2 separate regions of the Homo sapiens genome follow, and region 1 is linked to region 2. Evidence: fine-mapped expression QTL. A gene starts in region 2. The other region holds a variant in brackets. All regions are shown on one strand. Distances are from middle to middle.

Region 1 (8,339 bases), 51 kb after region 2:
CTGAGTAGCTGGGATTACAGGCATGTGCCACCACACCCAGCTAATTTTGTATTTTTAGTAGAGACAGGGTGTTGCCATGTTGGTCAGACTGCTCTCGAACTCCTGACCTCAGGTGATCCGCCTGCCTCGGCCTCCCGAAGTGCTAGGATTGCAGGTATAAGCCACCGCAGCTGACCTGAAGACAATTTCTGTTCAATATATAGAATATTTGTCTAACAGTCCTGTCCAAATGTGAAATAGACTGTCTCTAAGAGATGATGAATTCAGTGGAAGATAAAATGGACAGTTTGACTTGGATGACTTATAGCCTAAGTAAGTAAGATTCAATAATTTTATTAAATTCCCCCTAGCTAATAAGTAGTATGAATTACATGGTACCTTTACTGAACTTCAAGTGGATGGTACTGTCTAAACTCACTTATCGATTATTCTCCTGAAAGCATCCCAGCCCTAAGTCATCCCAACATCATAATTCATGACAATTTGCTGACTTACCTTGAGTGAGCCTATACGTAACACCCCTAATATTATATTGTGATGCTCTCTCTAGGGATTTTTGGAAAATCCATTGTATATGTTCAGGATCATCTCCATCTAATGGAACCCCTTCTGTTTAAAAAAAAAAAGGGAGAGAGAGAGAGAGAGAAGACAGGAATACGTAATCACAAAACAATGTTTTTAATGAAATTATCCAAAGGAATAATATAGAAAAAATATGTATTTTATGTAATTCTAGATTATTAAATTAGGTTTATTACCTCCAAAAGGCTGCTCCTTAGGCCACTGCAACATCCTTACATACTCAATACAGTGTTCTGGTAGCCTGGGCATAGATGCAATGGTGCACATGGGAAAATTAACCTAAAACCACAGTTTGTCCTTTTCAGTGAATTTTAAACGAATTATTTTAAAATGCAACTTCCAGTTATGATCTAGTTCTTAACAATTTCATACAATTTGTTTCAACTCAAAATATTGTATACCATTAAAAATGCCTCTCAAACTATAATACAGATTAACTGAGTCACTTCACTTAGGCTGCACTGCCTGTAAAGACAGGTTTGCCCTACATTTACAAGGTATAAAATTTAAGCTTTGTTAGACTATGAGAAGAAAAATACTGAACAGATTTTCTCAAATATGAACACCTTGTTATTTTTACCTAATATTTAAGTATAAAGCAAACCAAAACAAAAGCAAGTTCAGAGTTAAGTGAATCCCAAGTGAATACTCATAAAATTGTTTACATTTATTATTCAAAATTTCAAGTGTTCTTTAAAGTGGATATGTAAACCAAAAAGCCCCATCCTTGGAAAGATCATTCTTATCCCTGGTATCTTTATTTCCCTGAAATAAATACAGGTGAAAACCACATAGATTACAGCTTGACATCAATATACAACTTTGTAATTCTACTTGATACCTACTCCCCAAATAAAAAATACAAATAAATTATGAAAGCAGAATAGTATCAAAACAATGTACTCGGTTCATATCTTTCCTCAAATAGAGCAGAATTTCATATTTTATCTTTCTTCTTAGTGTAATTTTTAAAATACGGCCACTTCTAATTAACAATCCTAAATATTAACTAGACTTAATAATTAATCCCTAATTCCATGCCAAGATACTATAAAAGAAATGCAGGTGCTTTTTTGATTACCTGTGGTGGATAAAGTTCCAGCGTGCATTCGATACAAGCAGTCATTCCAGGCAGAATCACCCGGGCATTTCCTTTAAAACCTTCTGTCCCCCCATCTATCAAAGGGACAATGGAGCTTGGATCTAAGACACCATCTTCATAATTTAGAAGAGATATCTAGGAAAACAATTTGAAGGGCTTTAAAGGAGAAGGGGATAAGAATTCAAAAGAAGAAGTATGCTTTCAAGTAATCCTATGAGTCGGTTGTGCTATTGAATACCAATGTATCAAATCAAGGGATTATAATAACAATTTGTGTCTTCACCTGAAAACCAATGACTGGCAATAAACAATGAAGTAAATATACTTAATTAAAAATTAAACTCTGATTTTTCAAAAATATATCAATTCTAATTTTGGGGATGTGAAGCACAGCAGCAAGAACTTCAGAGAACTATAACAATACTAAAGTCTTTACCAGCATGCCATTTATCCATCTTCTGGCGATGATAGAGTCCAGTCCACATACAATAATATGAAATTCTACAAAAAAAAAAAAAAGCAACTTTAGTTTTTAAATATGTAGTTGCATGATGATCTTTCAATGTAGATTCATCAACTGCAACAAATGTACCACTCTGGTGCAAGATGTTGATTAGGAAGGTAGTGTGTTTGTGGGAACAGGAAGCTCTATGAGAACCCAAGTTTTCAAAAATTTTCTGTTCAATTTTGTTGTGAACATAAAACTGCCCTAAAAAATAAAGTTTACTAATTAAAAAAAAAAAGCACTTGCAGAAAACAATTTGCACGTTCTAAGAAACCAACAAAAAAACCACAAGCACTTTTTACTGTAATCCCACATACGTTCTCAGAGCTCCAATTCCTTGAGTGAACTCTCATTCAGGTAAGCATAGAAACTTGTAGCTGGTCATGTCAGCTAAAACTAGCATTCTCTTTTCAGTCTATCAGCAACATTACTGAAAAGCCAACAGTGAGAGAGGAAAGCAAGTGAAGAAATAGCCTTGAAATAGCTAGCAATATTTGAATAGCTACCAACTAAAAAATTCTAAGAATCTAGTGAGCATTAATTTCAAGTAAAAAACTTACGTCGATAGAAAGTGTCGTTAAAATCTTGAATCTTGTTGAAATGTCTGAATACAAGTAAAGGAACTTAAGCAGCTAAGTTTTAATTTCTAAAATGAATTTGACAATGCCATAAGGAACACACTCTGCATATATTTACAACAAGAAATAAGTAATCAATGTTCACATCAGTGGAATTCAAGGAATCTGACTAAATGAACACAACTCTCCTTTCTGACAAAACTTTTCTGCCATTCCTCCCCTAACTACTTACTTTTTCTCATTCCTGAACCCCTATATCATTATATTTATGCCCTTGGTAGGAGGTATACTTTCTACTTTGCTTTGGTTTTTATATAAAACCATAAGCCCCAGGAAAGCAGAATGTGTGTCCTCAATCATCAGCATCAAGAAGAGATGCAATAAATGTTTTAGTGAAGGAAAGATGCACATTATAGTTCCTATTTTGCTAGGTGATTTTAAGAGTTACTGCAAAGCTCATTTTTTTAACATACAGAAAATTTCAACAGCTTTTTCAGTTGGTAAAGATTTTACTGTTTTTATTTTTTGTGGGGAGGAGAAAAAGTACGAATTTTTTCTACCTTTCTCATTTAACTCAGTTTTCAAGTTACCCTACCAAATCCTATTACCAGTCTTCCCATCCCTGGAGGCTAAAAAGGAAACTCCATTCAAAACTGATTGTGGGTGAGTCAATATAGCACTTAATGTTTTAATAGCACATGTGTGCAAAAACTTGTTTTAATTTTTCTAATGAATGGAGCAATTGTTTAATAATTTATAAATTATGCA[A/G]CTTCTCTAAAGTTAAGATAAATAGTCCACTATAAATTTTTTAAAAGCAATACAGAGAAAAAAGGGACAATACATAGAAAAAAGGGACAATACATGCTTCCTCTAGATTTTTAATTCTTGCCTACAAATAAAGCTATGAACAATAATTTCAATTCTAGCCCTCAGTCATTCAGACCTCTATTCCCTTTGAATGCTAGGCAAGCAGGAGAACGAAGCTACAGCTAGAAAGAGGTCAAAAAAGAAACAAAGCAAACAGTGGAGGAATGGCAATCAGGGAACCAAGAGCCAGACTAAGAAATCTAATCTGGATTTCTAGAAAATACCCAAAGTTTCCCAGACCCACATAATGGGGATAGACAAACTGAGTGCCCCCCACTAACCAACCCACCCCCACCAACTCTTCCTTTTTCCCTACAGGGGCCTGTATTTGCATTTTTAAGCTCTTTATTTTGAAATAATATAGATTCGCAGTAAGTTGCACAGATAGTATAGGTAGGTACCATGCACCTTTCCCAGTTACATCTTACTATAGTACAGTACCAAAACCATGAACAGAACATTGGTACAATGTGTGTTTATAATTCTGTCATTTAAACACACATAGATTTGTGTAACCACCACCCCAGGCAACACACATAACTATTCGACCACAATAAAGATCTCTCTGCAGCCTCCACATCCTGGGCTTAACTGATCTTCCTGCCTCAGCCTCCCACATAGCTGGGACTACAGGCATGTGCCACCATGCCCGGGTAATTTTTCTAGTTTTTACAGAAATAGGGTCTCATTTGTTGCCTAGGCTGTTCTCAAACAACCAGGCTCAAGTGATCTTCCCGCCTCAGCCTCCCAAAGTGCTGGAATTACAGGCCTGAACCACCACACCCAGCCATCTCTATAATTCTGTAATTTCAAGAGTATTATATAAACAGAATCATGCAGTATATGACCTTTTGAGACTGGCTTTTTTTTTTTAGTCTAATAGTTGTGTAACAGTATCGCTCATGGTGGTCTTAGTTTGATGTGAAACATCTTTTCATGTGCTTTTCGTCATCCTTTTTAGTAAAATATCTCTTCCTATCTTTTGTCTATTTTCTAATTGAATTTTTTTTTGTTTTACTGTTGAGTTTTTAGAGTTCATTATATACTCTAGATATGAGTCCTCCATCAGATGCTTTACAAGTATTTTCTCCAGTCTGTGGCTTTTCTTCATCCGTTTAAGAGGGTCTTTCACACAGCAAGTTTTTAATTTTGATGAAGTTCAGTGTATCAATTTTTTCCTTTTATGGCTCATGCTTTTACAAAAAATTATTTTAATTTTTTAGAGATGATGTCTCACTACATTGCCCAGGCTGGAATGCAGTGGCTATTCACAGTATGACCACAGCCTACTATAGCTTCAAACTCCTAGTCTCAAGCAATCCTCCCACCTTAGCCTCCCAAGCAGCCAGGACTCTGTAGTGGTATGATAAAAGCTCACTGCTTCCTCAGTGATCTGCACCACCATACCCCACCTTTTACAGGTCTTGCTTTTGACGTGGCCTAAGCACTCTCCACCAAACCCTAAAGTTCTATCGTTTTATGGTTTTTTGTGTTTTTTTTTGTTTTTTTGAGATGGAGCCTTGCTCTGTCGCCCAGGCTGGGGTGCAGTAGCGCAATTTCAGCTCACTGCAACCTCAGCCTCCTAGGGTCAAGCGATTCTCCCACCTCAGCCTCCTGAGTAGCTGGGAGCCACTGTGCCCGGCTAATTTTTGTATTCTTAGTAGAGACGGGGTTTCACCATGTTGGCCAGGCTGGTCTCGAACTCCTGACCTCAAGTGATCCACCCACCTCGGCCTCCCAAAGTGCTGGGATTACAGGCATGAGCCACCACGCCTGGCTCATTTTATATTTTATATTTACACCTATAATCCATTTTGAGTTAATTTTGTATGTTTAGGTCAAAATTCATCTTTTAACTATGGATATGAAATTGCTCCAGTACGATTTGTTGAAGACTATGCTTCTTCCATTGGAACTGTTTTGCACCTTTATCAAAAACAAATTGGCCATACTTATATGGGGCTATTTCTGGCTTCCCTATTCTGTTCTAGTCATCTATATATCCCTCTGGTAACGCCACTGAGTCTGGATTACTATAGCTATATAAGTCTAGAATTTGGATAGTGATTCCTCCCACTTTCTTTTTCAGATTTGTAGTAGGTATTCCTTTGCTTTTCTATATAAAATTTTAGAAGATCGTCTATATCGACAATTTTGCTGGGATTTTAATAGAAACTATGGTATATATGTATACAAATTTAGGGAGAAATGACATCTTTACTATATTTAATCTTCCAATCTTTGAAGATGGACTATCTCTCCATTTATTTAGATTTTCTTTGGTTTCTTTCATCAGCATTTTGTAGTTTTTCACTATATAAATCTCTTACTTATCTTGTAGTTTACATCTAAGTATTTATTTTTCTTTCTAAGCAGTTGTAAATGGCATTGTATTTTACATTAACTTTCACAAGTTCACCGGTATGTTGATTTTGTATTCTGTGGGACTTTCTACATAGAAATCACATCTTCTGACTTTCTATAAAATGCCAAAAGTTCTCCAGATCTAAATTCAAACTACAGTGTAAATACTCCTTTTTAAAAACATATTTCTTGTAAAAATAAATTTACTGTGATGTACCTTCCATTTGGCTAATACTATATTGACTGTCTACTCTGTCTGCTACTATAAAGAAACAAAGATTAATTGGATCCAGCCTAGGAATTTACACTCTAGTAAAGGAGATATGTAATTGATACTGAAATTAAGGGCAATAATGCAAAATAAAGTAGATGATGAAACAGGCTTTATAAACTTAAGTTAAAAATCAGGGCCCAAAAAATATTTATATAACCATACAGAAAAGACTGGAAGAATAGATAGCAAAATGTTACCAGCAGTTATCTCAGTAATAAAGTTACTACTGCTGACTTTTTTTCCCTCTTGCTTATCTGTATTCTCTGTTAAATATCTCTTATAATAAAGGAAAAAAGCTTTTAAAAATTAAGTAATTTTCTTTTTGTCAAAAGGATACGGAACTACATTGCAATTAGGAACTCTGTCATTTAGAAATTCTGCAGCAACTTCAGCCTTAGGTCTTCCAATATCTTTAGGCCTACAGGAAAAATATTTAAATTATAATTCATATTATAAATCTATATGATCTACATAACTTATTTTCAAACATAAAAGTAAATTCACAGTAAGTTTACTTATAGGAAATTTAGAAGGAATATTTTTGCCTAAGTATTTTGATTTCAGTAATAACTTTTGGTAAACGGTCATTTAACCTTAAATGTCAACCCTTGCTAATGGTCCAAATTAACATAAGTCTAATTAAGTATTGCTTTAATTAAGAGAAAATCTGAACAGTGTTCTTCCTCCCAGATAAAGCATAATAATGCTATGATTCCTGGCCACTTTCCACTGTAAAAAATTATCCCACTCTTAGAGCTCAGAACCTTATGGTGTTACTCCACAGGTCTTGGCTGAAATATACACAATAAGATTCATCCTTGGGATGCAAGAACCTTCATTTAACCCCTTCTTCCTGTGTGTGCTGATTAAGCAGCAAATTTTGTGTCCCCTAAGAAGCTGCATGAAAAAGAAAAAAAAAGAAAAAAAAAATTTCACTGGACCGTATATAAAATGGAAAAAAAAAAAAAAAAGAGGCTGTAACCACGTTTTTTTCTTTTTTCTTTTTGAGACGGAGTCTCACTCACTCTGTCACCCAGGCTGGAGTGCAGTGGTGCGATCTCGGCTCACTGCAACCTCCGCCTCCCAGGTTCAAGCAATTCTCATGCCTCAGTCTCTAGGGAGGTGAGATTACAGGTGCCTGCCACCACAACCAGCTAGTTTTTGTATTTTTAGTTTTGCCATGTTGGTCAGGCTGGTCTCGAACTCCTGACCTCAGGTGATCTGCCCGCCTCAGCCTCCCAAAATGCTGGGATTACAGGCATGAGCCACCATGCCCGGCACCAAGTTTTTAAAGAAAGAATAATACCAAAAGTGTCAGCTAAAATTGCAAATGTTACTATTACATCACAGAAGCTGAATATATAAGGCCTCAAAAGGTCACTCTTAAAACAATAACCACACATATAGATAGGAAAGGATATGAATTTCCTCCTCTAAGTTCTATACAAATGGTATTTTCTTTCCTAATATTTCCATATTCTCCTCAGAGAAATCACTCCATGTATATAATAAGAACATTATTACTTTTTTCGTAACATATTTGCTACATACACGTCTATCATACCCACTAGACTATTATTTGGATGAAAGTGACCATGTTCTTACTCTCTTCATATTCCTTCCTACCTAGCACACAGTAAATACTTTTAAAATAAATGAAAATAATAAATCGTGTGCTTATTAGAAAAAAATCTGAAATTTCAAAGAAAAACACTTTAGCATGTCAATTTTTCTTTTCTTTTTTTTTGTTTGTTTGAGACAGAGTCTCGCTCTGTCACCCACGCTGGAGTGCAGTGGCACAATCTCGGCTCACTATAACCTCTGCCTCCCAGATTCAAACAATTCTCCTGTCTCAGCCTCCAGAGTGCTGGGACTACGGGCATGAGTCACTACGCCTGGCTAATTTTTGTATTTTTAGTAGACACAGGGTTTCACCGTGTTGGCCGGGCTGGTCTCGAACTTCTGACCTCAAGTGATCCGCCCACCTTAGCCTCCCAATGTGCTGTGATTACAGGCATGAGCCACCATGCCAGGCCAATTTTTTTTCTCTCCAATAAAGCACTGTTC
Region 2 (8,339 bases):
ATAATGATCCTTTATTCAATTTTTTTTGAGCACTTGCTTGGTGCCAGGCACCACGTTAGCAAATGGGTATACAGAGGTGAACAAAACAAGAAAGAGCCTTGCTCTCATGGTGCCTTTAAACCTACTACAACTGTCATAAACAAGCAATCAAATAAACAACTTCAGCTGATGACTGGGCCTGTGAATCAAACCAACTAGGGGCCAGCAAACTTTTCCTGTAAAGGAGAAGCAGTAAATATTTTTGGCTTTGCCAGACATAAGATCTCTGTGGCAACTACACAACAATGCCTCTGTCCAAAAAAGTAGCCATGGTCTATTATAAAAGAATGGATGAGGCTGTGTTCCAATAAAACTTTTTAACTTACAAAAATTATGGAAGGGCTTGATAGGATCCAGTTTAGTGATACCTGAAACTAAATAAAGTAATATGATAGACAACATAGCATGGTGAACATTTAAAGCTTAACCACCTGGATTTGAATCGCAAATCTGCAGCTTCCCAGCTGTAAGACCTGGAACAAGTTACTTAACCTTTCTGCACCTAAGCTTTCCCATCTGTAAAATGGAAATAATAATAAACCTTCATCATAGAGCTGTCATGAGTTAAATGAGTTAGTTATTGGTAAAGTGTTTCGAAAACTATCTGGCACATGCTAAATGCTATGGAAATGTTTATTAAATAAAAGTTTAAAGCCATGTGGGGCAGAGAAGGGGCCTAAATAACATTAAAGCTGAGATCTGAATGATGAGGAGGGGAAAAGTATCTGTGAGAGAGCAAAGGGAGTGGGATGGCTCTGAGCAAGTGTGTGTCTGCTGAATAAAAAATTATAATCATAATCAAGGTATGAGCACAGACAATGTTCCAGGAGCGCTTCTGTACTCAGGATACAGCAATGAAGGTGCAGTCACGAACTAAACTCATTGCCCTTGTGAAGCTTACATGCTAGTAGGTATAATAATCAGCTATAATAGCTAAGACTTAGAAACTCCAGGACACTAAGCAGTCTGCCTCAAAGACTGTGCCCTTAAGCTCTCCCATCATGCCTTTACATTGTGAACAGTGATAATGGTCAGAAACCTCACTGCATTTCTAATTCACCCAGTAAGTGTTAAATCTCTTGGACCAGATTTCTCCTATATATCCCAGACAATGATCCTGCCATTCTCAGGTCACTTTAGTGGGATCTTTGTTCTTTTTTTTTTTTTAAGTGCTCTTTCCACTGGATGACAGAGTCTTAATACACACTGGATGTTCATCAGCTAGGACTGCTGTTTCCTGGGTCATACCGGAAAACCCAACTTTCGAAATCAGTCTTCATTGATTATGGGCTGTGAAGATGGAACCTTTAGAAACAGACTGCAGGCCTGTAATAGTAGCACTTTGGGAGGCCAAGACTGGCAGATTGCTTGAGTCCCTGAGTTCGAGACCAGCTTGGGCAACGTGATGAAACCCGGTCTCTGCTAAGAATACAAAAAATCAGCTGTAGTCCCAGCTGAAGTGGGAGGATCACTTTAGCCTGGGAAGTCAAGGATGCAGTGAGTCGTGATCTCGCCACTGCACTCCAGCCTGGGTAATGCGAGGGAGACTCTGTCTCAAAAAAAAAAAAAAACAAAGAAAGAAAGAAGAAAAGGAAATTGACTGCTATGTTCCATCAAACCTCAAGTTCCAAGGCCATGGAATTCTAAGTGAACAGTGGGGACACCAAAAAGGAATCCTTTTTCCCCCATTTTCCCCCCTTGGAGTAGTTAAGTATTGTGGTTTTTCACTTTGGCGGCCCTCAAGAGTATGGTGTTATCTGCTGTAAATCTGATCTGAATTACAATAACATTTTCACTTGGAGCTTTTATCCAAGAATGAGTTGACAGCAGTTTTATAAAAATTTAAAAACACATATTAATAGTAACAATGACTCTACTTGTAATAAAAATATATACCTCTTGAATCTTCAGAACCACTCAGAAGCTTCTGTGATGTTTCAGGTCTCTAAAACCTGTCAGAAATGAAACATATTACCTTAAAAGGATGCTAAAGTAAACCTGATCATTCAGATGATGTTGTGAATTAAAGGAAATATTAAGAAAGAAAATAATGTAACGTGATAACTCTCAGCCAGAAGGCCTGGCCGGTGGTGCGCTTTCTTTTCCTTAATGAATACCACACTGCTATACTCGAGTTCACAGGCACCACCCCCAACACAGCAACTCGGACCAGATTCCAATGGGGAACGGGAGGAGGTGGCCCACTTTCTACAGGCATCCACTGGAACTGGCCAACAGGATACTTAGTGGATCAAACATTCCCAGAAGCAAACAACTTTCCCATTCTCACAGCAGTAATCCCACTGGCTGAATCACAGGGCTACCCACCTAGAGTGGCGAGCCTGAGGGTTCCCAGGCCTTCCTATTTTTTGACTCGTCCTTCCCGGTAATAAAGTCATTGTTATGACCAAGCCCTGACCTTTGGTTATCCAAGTCCATTGTCCTCCAGTGAGCTCTGGCCATCACTAAACTCACCGATCAGTGGAGAAGTAACGCTTAGGCGATGGAAAAAATCTAAAGACGCAGATCAGAAAGCTGGCGTCTGGCGAGGGCATGTACCCACTTGCATAAGGCGGCTGGGGGTGGCTGCTGGGCCTGGCACAAAGCCTTCCTGGTGTCGGTCGTCCTGCAAGGCCCGCCGGGATGGGTGGCTGCACTCCTCCAGCACACGGACGCTTTACTGGCCAGGCTACTTTTCCTTCAGCTCAAAGCAGCTGGAATCACTCCACTCCAGAAACCCTTGATTCGATTTCCACAGGCCTAATGAGGAAGGAAAAAAGGGAAACATCTGAAAGATGATGGATAGGAGGCAAAACCTGGGGTTGACACAGCGGGCGAAATGGGGCAATGTCGCAGAGAGAGAGAGCTTGGAAAAGTTTAAAGACGGCAGTGGGCAAATGGAAAGTTCAACACGTGAGACCCCGAATGACACCTCAACGGCTGGCCCCTACTTGTGCCAAAAAGTCTCTCGGCGGGTGCCAGGCAGGGCTCAGGAAGTGCTCGGCTGCCCCTTGAACGTCAGTCCCGGCAGAGCCCAGCTGTCCGCTTGAACGTCAGTCCCGGCCAAGGGCTGAGGGGTCAGTGGCGAGCACCCCGCCGCGGCTGAGACGCCGCGCTGGGGTTCCGGACCCCGGGCGCCGCCAGGGATTGCTTCGGGGTCGGTGATCTCCCGGGGCCGCCCGCCACCGTGCACCGCGGCGCCCCGGGTCCCCAGCGCGCCTGGGAGGGGCCCCGGGGAGCGGCTCCGCCCCGGCTGGAAACCTGGTCAACGCGGCTAGGGCCCGGGGCCCGCCTGCGCTCCGGGCGCTGGGAAGGGGCCGGGCGCCCGGGGCCGGGGAGGGCCAGGATCGGCTTCCGACGCCCGCCTCCCGGCCCGCAGGGAATGGGAAGGCGCGGGCGGAGTGCGTGCGTAGGCTATAGCCCTCCGGGAAGCCGCGCCGGGAGCGGCTACCACCCGGGCAAGAACAGCGCAGAGCGCTGCGGCGGCGGGAAGGAGAGCGGGGGAAGGCTCCGCAGATTGCGGGGGAGTCCCACCTGGAGCCGGGGCAGCCGTGAACTACCGAGGAGGAGGCGGAGGAGACGGCGGCTGTTCCAGAGGAGGGAGTCGTCATAACCGGCTACTGCCGCTCACCGGAAACCTCGGGCGCGGGAGCTGGGCCAGGGGGCGCCAAGGAGCAGCTGGGACACCTTGGCCAGCCGGCGCCGTGGGCGGGCTCGGGCCCCGCAGAGGCAGGACCGGGACTACACCCAGGAGGGCCAGGGCGCGGGGCCCGACGCTCGGAGCGGCTTCAGCCCGGCGAGCGGCCTCGACCCGGCGAGCGCAGCAGGGAGGGGCTCAGAGTCGAGGAACCATCTGCCCTTCCTGGCGTTCTCCCGCGAACGTTCGCGCGAGTCCGCCAGCTCCCTCACCAGGGCCGGAAAGACCGACGGCACGTGCCGGCGCCGGACGCCCATCTCCATCGCAGCAGCCCGCGCCTCCTTGAGCGAGAGCGTTAAAGCGCTCAGAGGATGTTAGGACGGGGTGGGTAGAAAACCTGACTCTTCGTGTCTTCTGCGTTGCACTGAGGTGGATTTTTACTTTTGTCTTATTTCAAGCAGAAGTTGCCGCCCTAACTTCCAAATTTGGGGACTGAACATCGTTCACCGAATACACTTTGTGATGGTGAGGATACTTTGGAGTCCACACACATTTTAAAAGCAGTATAGTTTTACCTATCCGTAAACTCATCAAGTTCAAATGCTACTCTGTGGAGTTTAATTTTTATGGTTTTGTTAATTTACTTTATTACTGCTTATAATTATTTGAACTCCCATCCCCCACTGTCTTTTCCTCTAAGCTCCCCCAGGCCTAGTATTCCATCTACAGCACAGTAGAGTTGATCATTAAATAGTGACTAAAGTTGAACTGATTATATGAAGGTGATGACTTCAAAATAAACATGCTCAAATGAATATAGTCACCAGAAGTTAAATAATATGATCATAAGGAAACAAGTTTGTTTCCAAAGGCTTACATGCTTTTTACGTAATTTTTAAAAGTAATGTTGTTTAAGAATTGTTACAAGTTCCATTAGTGACCTGCTAAATTAGGAATCTTACCTGGAATTTTTTTCAAATAATAACAGCAAGAACATGTGGTGTTTAACATGTGCCAAACATTGTTTTAAAGCACTTTACAGTATTAATTTATTCTTTTTATTGAAAAGATTTTGCCTCTAAGGGAACTGTCAAGAGGCATGTGAACCGGAGCAACTCCATCTTAAATAGGAGCTGAGTAAAATGAGGCTGAAACCTACTGGGCTGCATTCCCAGGCCGTTAAAGCATTCTAAGTCGCAGAATGAGATAGGAAGTCGGCACAAGATACAGGTCATAAAGACCTTGTTGATAAAACAGGTTGCAGTAAATAAGCCGGCTAAATCCCACCAAAACCAAGATGGCCATGAAAGAGACCTCTGGTAGTCCTTACTACTATACTCCTATCAGCGCCATGACAGTTTACGAATGCCATGGCAATGTCAGGAAGTTACCCTATATGGTCTTAAAAGGGGAGGCATGAATAATCCACCTGTTTAGCATATCATCAAGAAATAACCATAAAAATGGGCAACCAGCAGCACTCAGGGCTGCTTTGTCTATGGAGTAGCCATTCTTTTCTTCCTTTACTTTCTTTTTTTTTTTCCTTTACTTTCTTAACAAACTTGCTTACACTTTGCCCTGAATTCTTTCTTGCTCGAGATCCAAGAACCCTCTCTTGGGGTCTGGATTGGGACCCCTTTCCTATAACAGAATTACTGCTCTATTATTTTATACTTTGCATACTTCACCATCCCACACTAATGACAGTAATTTTTTAAAATGCTTCCTCAAGCCAGGCACTGTGGCTCATGCCAGTAGTCCCAGCTACTCAGGATGATCGCTTGAGCCCAGTGAGGTTGAGGCTGCAGTGAGCCATGATTGAGACACTGCACTCTAGCCTGGGCCACAGTGAGACCCTGTCTCATAAAAAAAAAAAAAAAAAGCTTCCTCAGCCTACTTGCTACCATCCTATTTTTGTCACATACAAAAAGGTTAAAATCAGTATGACATGTGCATGGTACTATTTTATTTTATTTTTTTTGTAGAAACAGGTTCTTGCTATGTTCCCAGCACTTGTTTCCAACTCCGGGCCTCAAGTGATCTTCCAGCCTCGGCCTCCTAAAGTGCTGGGTTTACAGTTGTGAGCCACCACGCCTGGCTATGTGGTGCTATTTTAAACACCTACATATTGAATGGTCATTCAGACTTACAGGAAACCAGATATGATAAACCTGAACATGAGATTGAGTCTCTCTTACTGTAACAGCCATTCTCAAATAGAATTTCTCTCCAAAATACCAATGTTAGAATTTAAATTTTCTTTGAGCTGACATAAAACTCAAGTGTCTACCAATAGAAGGCTGGTTGAATAAACTATGGTTTATCCATACAATGTAAAACTATGCATGCATAAAAAGGAATTGAGAAATATCTCTGTACACTACAGAATATTGAGTGGGAAAAGGATATGTAATATGTAAATATCATTTTTCTAAGAGGAATATGTGTGTATACATGTGTATACACATATATATTTACTAATTATTATTTTACAAGTAGATTAACATTTAAAATGACTATATGGGCAAGGAGGGAAGAGGAGGGGTATAAGGAACAAAGAAGACATGACTTTGTTTTTTGGTGTGTGTGTGTGTGTGTGTGTGTATGTGTGTGTGTGTGTGTGTGACAGAGTCTTACTCTTTTGCCCAGGCTGGAGTACAATGGTGCAATCTTGGCTCACTGCAACCTCCATCTCCTGGGTTCAAGCAATTCTTCTCCCTCAGACTCCTGAGTAACTGCGATTACAGGCATGCGCCACCATGCCTGACAAATATTTATATTTTTAGTAGAGACGGGGTTTCACTGTATTGGCCAGGCTGGTCTCGAACTCCTGACCTCAAGTGATCCGCCCACCTCAGCCTCCCAAACTGCTTGGATTACAGGCGTGAGCCACCACGCCTGGCGTGAAGACATGACTTTGAAGTCATGTAAATATGTTACATTATAAAGCAAAATTCTGTTTTTAAAAAGCAATCCTTGAAAGTAAAATGAAACTAAATGAACCTAAATGTTTTCCAATTGTGGCATATCACCCAGAGGAGCTATCCCAAGTGACTTTAAAACTTAATTTGTATATACTTAGTGGGATGTATTCTCAGGACTAAAGTACAAAAAAACTCTTTTGTAGACTGCATTCCGTAACCAAATTGTTGGTGGCAATATTGGTATTATGGGATACACCAAGTTGAAGTAATTATGATGGTACCTTTGAAGCTGAAATTTTTGACATGAGATAGAAATATGAAAGCTTAATCAGGCTATATAAACATCCTGTAGTTCTGAATTTCAGTTGGAGGCCTCAGTATGATTAACAGTATGGTTAATCTTTAAAAACACATCTCTCCTACGTGCTCCATTGAAAAGGCCTAGAGACAAGCTACCCAGGAGGAAGAAGCACCCCCTTGCGCTCACACTGTGATCTCTACCAACCATTTCCCATTAAAAGAAACACTGACTCCATAGAACAATGGATGATCTTGGGTCTGGAGCAGGAAATGTACAAGATAAGCCTGCAACATCTTACATCAGGAAGCAGCAAAGCAATCAAAAGGCTATTAGGGTCATATCAAAAGGACTCAGGATCCACCTTGAAAACCTTCCTACTGGCCAAAGATAGGATGATTTAAAACATAAATAAAGGTAACTGTAATTGGATGAAGGACAGATACATTTAAGTAATCATATCAGACACGACCAATCAACCAAACATGCAAGCCAAAAAGGTATCGCTGTTCATTTTTAATGACAGAAGGAAACCAACTCTTATTCTGAAAACTGGTAAACAAAGGGAAAGAATCAGGAATATTTATACTGTCTTTCCTGTATGAATTATGATGCAAATAACAAAATAACTGAAGTAAATTTTTTATGGAAACATTCCAACTACTAAATGAAAAAGAAATGACAATATCACTCCACAAGCTCTGTGAACTAATAGATTTAAGAAGTGATCATCAATTATTTCTTTATCACAACTGAGAAACCATCAGGAATTATCTGTCTCCTGCTGGAAGAATACACTTCCACCTAATGAAGTATTTTTGTTGAAAAATAATTGCCTTTAGATTTAAACACAGGAGGCGGAACACACTAACAAAAGGTAAGAAATCAACATCCAGATGGAGGGAAACTATAGGACAAATGACCTAGTTTTTTCTACAAATAAGAAACTTCATCGAAATTGCAAGAATTAAGAAAAAGAGAGACAGAGATGGAAGAATGCATGGCTTAAAAAATTTGAGACAAATCCAACAAATTACAATGAGTAAATTGCTAACAATATCAGCAGAATGTAGTATACTGGTTCTCTCATCCAACTGTTAGACCATAATTAAAAGGTGTTGACATTTTTAATGAATAAATTTTGGCTGTAACTGATCTATATGCTTATGATTTTACAGAAAAGCAGTAGGAAAAGTAGCACCATATAATTAATTATTGAAATCATAGACTCTGGAGCCAAACTGCACAAATTAGAATCCCAGCTTTGCCACTTACTTGCCATATGACCTTGAGCAATTTACTTAATCTTTATTTTTAAAAATGGGGGTGATAATGGCATCCATTTTAAAAGGTTGACTTGATGATAAAGTGTGGGTACACACTTCCTTTTCCAAAATCCTTGGGTCCCTGTGTGTGTCTGAACTTTAAAAAATAGAATAGA

Evidence for each region.
Region 1: its variant is fine-mapped to the expression of EOGT in testis (GTEx, PIP 0.91).

What each region holds. Positions count from the first base shown.
Region 1 is chr3:69,061,319-69,069,657 of GRCh38, forward strand. It overlaps UBA3 (ubiquitin like modifier activating enzyme 3), which reads right to left. Exons shown (of 18, transcript NM_003968.4): 6 at 6,610-6,690; 7 at 2,750-2,793; 8 at 2,121-2,185; 9 at 1,664-1,819; 10 at 759-861; 11 at 496-609. Among named protein-coding and RNA genes, the nearest start is that of TMF1, 13 kb to the left of the region's middle. The variant A/G (reference allele first, on the strand shown) is at 3,536.
Region 2 is chr3:69,010,001-69,018,339 of GRCh38, forward strand. It overlaps EOGT (EGF domain specific O-linked N-acetylglucosamine transferase), which reads right to left and starts at 3,684. Exons shown (of 18, transcript NM_001278689.2): 1 at 3,574-3,684; 2 at 2,515-2,799; 3 at 1,936-1,991. It overlaps EOGT-DT (EOGT divergent transcript), which reads left to right and starts at 3,120. Exons shown (of 1, transcript NR_185971.1): 1 at 3,120-8,053. RefSeq lists silencers at 3,002-3,551, 3,612-3,911.